Linked DNA regions of Homo sapiens. The protein of the gene in region 2 purifies or fractionates together with the protein of the main gene of each other region. This does not show direct contact. Each region holds a gene or a part of one and is shown on either strand. Other genes may lie near its edges.

Evidence for each region.
Region 1: the proteins of SLC6A9 (region 2) and NUP210 purify together in Homo sapiens (affinity purification with mass spectrometry; one large-scale study listed by BioGRID and IntAct). This does not show direct contact.

What each region holds. Positions count from the first base shown.
Region 1 is NC_000003.12:13,322,513-13,326,325, forward strand, and holds part of NUP210 (nuclear pore membrane glycoprotein 210 precursor), read right to left. Parts: intron 3,420-3,813; coding exon 3,283-3,419; intron 921-3,282; coding exon 797-920; intron 1-796. UniProt on the Homo sapiens protein: Nucleoporin essential for nuclear pore assembly and fusion, nuclear pore spacing, as well as structural integrity.
Region 2 is NC_000001.11:43,998,119-44,000,671, forward strand, and holds part of SLC6A9 (sodium- and chloride-dependent glycine transporter 1), read right to left. Parts: intron 108-2,553; coding exon of another isoform or gene 6-107; exon of another isoform or gene 1-5. UniProt on the Homo sapiens protein: Sodium- and chloride-dependent glycine transporter. Essential for regulating glycine concentrations at inhibitory glycinergic synapses.

The DNA.
Region 1 (3,813 bases), on a different chromosome or scaffold from region 2:
AGGACATATCATATGGAAGAGGATGCCATCGGCATCACAGGGAGCTTCAAGTCAGAATTTCAGCATTTGTTCCAGACCTTGCATCCAGGGGCACGGCAGACGGGCTAGGCCCACTAATGCCTGTCTTCTGTCCCTGTCAGCAGGGGAAACGGCAATTTACTTCTGCACATTCAGAGGGCACTAGTTCTCCACTAACATCTGAGCAGCATTTAGGCAACGGCACAGTGCTGTCCACTTGCGCTGAGGAAGGAGCAGAGGCTGCCATGATGGAACAGAGCTGCCTCGTTAATCAGGACGAGAAGGGCGGTGCTTCACTCTGCCAGTGAGGTGGTTTAAGAAAACAGCCCTGTTGACTTACTTATTTCTGGCAGCTGCTGTTCAGGGCTGTCATGGGCAGGGGATGGGGTTCAACATTCTATGCATGACCTGGGAGAGGTCATTACAAAAATTAAAACCAGTGACGAGTCCTGCTAATTCATTAGTTTCTGGGATTCACGGTGGGAAATTGTGGCTTTCTTTGCTAGGGTGCCCTCGGGCTGAAGTCACATTTCCAGTGCAGAACAGGCACCTTCTGGGAGCTGGGCTCCATTATGAAGATTCCTTTCACTGGCTCAGCTTTTGGAGGACTCCAATTTCAGAAACGCTGGAAGGAGTGGATGAGTGGGGGCTAAATGCCCTCTCTGGAGTTGGTGTGAGTGTGAATAGGAGAAGCAGATAAACTCCATCCAGAGGACACAGGAAGCCACCTCCCCGCTCCCAGGTACTCTGAAGACAGCCCAAGCCCCTCATTAAGTACCTCTCAGGTTAGAGCTTCTGTCTCCCACGGCAACAATCACTTTGGAGGCTGTAGCCTCCTGGAAGCTGGTCTGGATGGGGTGGAGGTGACGGGCCATGATCCTCTGAGGGACGCTGACCACCACCTAGAGAGGGAGCCAAGGAAGCTTCATGGAGCGCCGCCTGTGTCCCGGTCCATGCTGGGCGTTTCCACAACCTCACCCTGCAGTCTGTGACATAGTGTCACCCGTTTCACAGGTGGCAACACTGAGGCTCAAAGCCTAAACGCCTTGCTAGAATGTGGCAGAGAGGGGGTTTGAGCCCAGTCTGGTCAGACTTCACAGCCCAGTTCTCCCATTGAACAAGCTGCTTCCCCCAGCAGCTGACTGGACGCTGAGCAGCGGGCCTGAATTCATTAATCGATCTGGGTGGGCTGAGGATTTTGGCTGTTCGGACAGCCATGATCACTTCTCTGTAGTACAGCACCACACCCCACCCAGAATCCAGTCTGCCCAGATTTTCCCAGCTGTTCCCCCTGTGCCCATCCTGTACCTGGCCACACCCAAACAGCCCCAGGCTGGAGACCTCCCTGCACTCCCTTGGCTAGGACACCCTCCCATCTTCTCTGCAGAGCCCAGCCTCATCCACCCTTCAGGCCCAAGGCCACTTCCTGCAGCTGAAGGCCCCCCTCCCTCTCTCAGCAGGCACCAGCGCTCCCTGCCTCCAGGAGATCTGATTTCTACCAGTAGGTGAACTTCAGAGCAGGGATGCGATTGAAGCCCCTGCAGCTCCCAGGGATGTGGCCCATGCAGAGCTGTAGGTGACCAGGCATCACTGTCAAACTCACGGTGCCTCCGCTCAGGGCTTACCACCATCCACCTCCAGGGACTGACAGAGGCTGTGTCCCACTCTCTAGCCTGGGACCCCCCAACGCTGGCCCTCCTCTCCCCTTCCTCCCTGTCCACCCTCAGAGAGTGCCCAAGGCTTCCTGGCCCCTCTCCTGCCTGCACTCCTGGAGTGCCCGTGCACTCCCACCCACTCCCAGGGCTTCAGAGGCCACTTCTGGGCTGAGGCCCCCACCCTGTCCAGCCTTCCTCACAGTGCTCCTGCCGCACCCACCCAGGTGTGCCTCCTGCCTCACCTGGGAGAGCTGTGACATCTCTAGCTCCCCGGCCCAGGCTCCTCACCTCCCTGCAGGCCTACCTACCTCTGTGTGCCCCTCTCAGCAAAGGACCAGTAGCAGCCTGGTCATCCCAAGCCCTTCCTCCCCTCCAGCCTCACTTCTGGATGCTCATGGAGCTCTGATGTGCCTCCCTCCCTCCCGTCTCTCCCAAACCTGCCTTTAGATTCTGCCACACCCAGTGATCCCAGCTGAGGGCCTGGCCTCAGTCTCTGGCCAGTTACCCTGTAGCGACTGCTCTCTCGAGCTCCTCCAGGTGCCAGGTAACCTCTGCAAACACAGCCTTGGTCTATAGCACTGTTTAAAAAACTCCACTGAGTGTGGCATAAGCTTCTACCCCTTCACCCTGGAACAGCAGCAGCAGCAGCAGCTAATTTCTGCTGAGCACTGGCTATGAGCTGAGCACCACCCTAGGGGCTTCTGACGTGCTAACTCACTAAATCCTCACAACGCTATCATCCCCATTATACAGGCAAGAAAATCGGGACATAGCGAGACTCAATGATTGCTCAGTCATAGCCTCGCAGTGGCCAAGCTGGGATTTGACCTAGACCGTCTAGCTGTAGATGCCCCACCCTCAACCTGCACCAAACTGCCTGGAATCTGGTGCATTTTCTGATCTGATCACAAAGCCAGACCATGCTTCTCCCACACCCTCTGTTCCAGCCCCCGAGGCTCTGCCCTTGAACCCTACACACCTTTGTCCATGCCACCCCATCCCCTGACCAGAGGCTCTTTCCAGGAGAGCACAGCTGTATTGTCACAGGATGCCTCTGTCTGCAACTGGCTCGCCCAAACTGCAGAGCCGCAGCACTAAATATGCAAACAATTAGGTTAAACTGCTAGGTTCCATAAAGCACATGCTGCCTCTAAAAATGAGATGCATTTGGATCTCAGCCAGACTTGCCCCACTGATTCATTCTCAACTGGAGATGAATGGAAGAGACAGCAGGTTTTGTCGCCTCCAGACTCAAAGGGTGACTTGCACAGGGAGTCTTAGCCTTGCAGGTGACAGGGAAGCACCGGCTCCCAGGAAGTGCCCACTCCGGGGTTGCCAGACCCAAGCCCATGGGAGCTGGAATCCACCCTACAAGGCTGCCTGTCCTCATCACACCCTCTTGAACATGGGGAGACTGAAGCCTGGAAAAAAAAGGGAGCTTGTCCCCATGTCAGAGTCAGCAAGTGGCCAGTCCCAGACTCATGACTCCCAGACCCAACCCCTCAGACGGCTTTTCCCTAAAAGGAAAAGTCTTCATAATCCTCCCAGAAGGTCAGGCCCGCCTCACAGGCCACTGAGCCACATGTGCCTCCGGCTGCTTAGAGCCCACCTCCTTGTAGGTCCTCAGGTGCCCAGCGACCTCATAGTAAACCGTCACGGATCCCACGGCCCGGGCCACAGCCACACCCGTCTTGGGGTCGATGTGGAGGATGCTGTTGGCCGAGGAGCTCCAGGTTCCTGAGAGGCCTGGAGAGGAAGCACAGGTGTCAGCCCCCTTTCCATAGCTGGACACTCCAGTCAAAGCCCAGCTCACCTGGATGACAGGCCAGCTTCCTCGCTGGCTGCCGCTACCCCCATGGGGGCTCACTCAGCAGCCTCAGGAGACAGCCACGCTGCCTGCCCCAGTGCCGGTCATGCTCCTGACTCCAGCCACCTGGAGCCATCAGCTCTCCTACCCTGCTGCACCCGCCCTCTACAGGGCTGTGGCCCCTAGCACCTGCTCTCCCTGACCCACAACTCCCTGCCTGGAATCTCCTGACCATCCTGGCATGAAGCTTTAGCTGACTCCTGCCCAGGAATGGTCTGGTGCTGCTGCCAGGCCCTGCCCTCTGTAGCTCCTTCCCCAAAGCACAGCCCCTCC
Region 2 (2,553 bases):
CCAAACTAGAAAAGGGCATTTGGGGCAGAACAGGGACAGCTGTCAACATCTGGGCCGTGGAAGAAGCAGGCAGGGCCGGGGGCCGGAGCGCGGTGAGTGGGAAGGCTCTGCGGAAGGGAGAAGTCTGTCTTTGCCACAGTCCTGAACTGGCCAAGCACAGTAGAGCTGCTGCCGCCTTTGGAATCAGTCAGTTCTGCTCGCTATGGCTCCCCATGGCTAACTGAAGTAAGGCCACATCCTGGGCCTTTAGGCTGTCACCTGGCAGTGTGACCTCAAATTGTCTTGCCGGCCACACTACTCCGCCCTCAGTGTTTCAGTCACACCCAGTGTTTCCCACCCACTCTTCATTTATTCTGGGGAATCATCCTCTGCATCTTCCTCTGTCAAACCCTATGTCAGTGCCCTCTCCTTCAAAAAGCCATCCCAGATTTCCTCCATTTCCTTCTGCAGGGCCTCCCCACGGCGTTTTCCACCTGCTTCCCTTAGAGTGACTTGGTTTAACGTTCCCATAGACCTGAGAGCTCCTGGAATTGCATCAACTCTGGGGGTGCAGTGCCCAGTACAGTGCCTGCCACAGTCTCTTGTGTTGATTTGAACTGATTTGTGCAGAGAGGCAGAGGAGGATGGAAAGAGGGTAGGGCAAAGCCCTGCCTGTCTATGGCCGTGGAGACAGGGACATTCAGCCTGGGGAAGCTCCATGGGCTAGAAATGGTGAGTGTCAGGCTGCGGTGCTCTAGGGAACCTCCTTGGAAAGAGATGAGTGAGATTGGAAATAAAACTTGTGGCTGCAGTAACAAAAGGAGTGAAAGGAGGCAGAAACACAGGCAGTGGCTGGCGGGCCACCCAGAGGGCCTGGCGGGGGAAGGGGGGGGGCAGTCCCAGCACCCTCCTCCTGAGCCTCCAGCCACATCCTGGAGCACAGGGCCATATTCTAGAATGCAAGACCCACATCCAAATTGGGGGACCCTCCGGAGACACTGCACACGATGGGAGCTTATAACAGGTTTCCTGAATGGAACAGATCCTGACCTACGTGTGGACAAATCCCTCATTTGAGCTGACAGAAGGGTGGAGTTTGTCAAAAAGAGCTTTTCAGAAATATGAAAAAGGAAAGCCCCCAGAGAAAACACAACAGCCCAGAAAGCCAGGCTGGAGTTACCCCAAGGAGAGGACTCTAGGCTCCCCTAAAGGTAACTCCAGCCTGGCTTCCTGGGCACAGGAAGAGCCCCGCCCGCTGTGCCTCAATCTTGTGGAGACACCAGATCCCAGCCAAGGTTGCCCCTACAGATCCTTCTTGTGCTTGTCTCCTTCCTCCCCACTGCCCTTGGCAGGTGCCCCCTGGTCTCTCCCCAGGACATCAATCTAGTCTGAATGCTGGGAGACCCTCTGAGCCGCAGAGGCTGAGCTCCCCTTGGGCCATAGCCCCAGAAGGCATGGCACTCTGGGGTGGTGGTGCCTGCCCTCCCCTGCCTCCCACCACTGAGACTTCCGTTCCTCCTGTTTCAAAGCTGGGCCAGTGGCCAGAGCGGGGAGCCTGTGCCAGGCTCGGGAACATCCCACAACCTACCGGGTAGAGGCCTCAGCCCTCCACGGGCCTTTATTCAGAAACATGAGCCACAGGGGAAGTCTGGTGCTGAGCCCCCTGTGCCACCGAGGCATTAAACATGACAAGAGTGTGGCTCTGAACACTGGCCGGGCCACTGGGCCAGCCCTCTGACTATCACTCAGAGGTGGCCTTGCCTGTCCTCTGTGGAGTGACCATTACACTGTCAATACCTGCCTTCCCCGAATCCCACCCCAAACAGGAAGGAGCCAAGTCATACGGTTTTGGCCCCTGGACCATTCCTCCCTCCTGCAGAGGTGTTTCTAGTGTGGCGCTGGCCCAGGCTTGGAATTGGACAACCTGATTTGAATTGTGGCTCTGCCTCTTATTAGCTGTGTGACCATGGGCCAATTACTTAACATCCCCATGCCTCAGTTTCCTCATCTGTAAAGTGGGGACAACAATGACACCTTGGAGAGCTCTATCACGGGTTACATGGGAATGGTGTGTGGAAAGTGCCTGCTTCCTTGCCATGGTGGATTCCTTCCACCAATTCAGCTCCCTGATGGGAATTTCTCAGCTGTTGAATATTCATAAAACCTGGAACTCCCCTTCCCAAGCCACCCACCTCACTGCCTGGAAGGCTTGCAAAGTTGCCCCCATGCAGAGCTGACCTCTGACTCCACAGTCTGGTCTACCAGCCTTGGGCTGCTGCTGGAACACTGGTTCCCACCACATAGCCAAGGCCCTGGAACACCCTCCCTGGAGGGATGGGAGATAAGGCCAGCAGGCAGAGGCTGACACGCTATCGATATTGACTCCTGAGTCCCCGGGGGTGCCAGGCAGGAATGCCTGAGCAACGTCTGCAGTCAAATAAAGGCTGTGGCACTCCCCTCCTAACCTGAGGCCAGGGCCCAGGCAGCTCTGAGTCGCCACACGCCTCTCTGACTCTCTCCAACCTCCCTCAGCCTCCCAAAGGCCAGAGTCATGGGTATGGAGCTCCGGCCAGG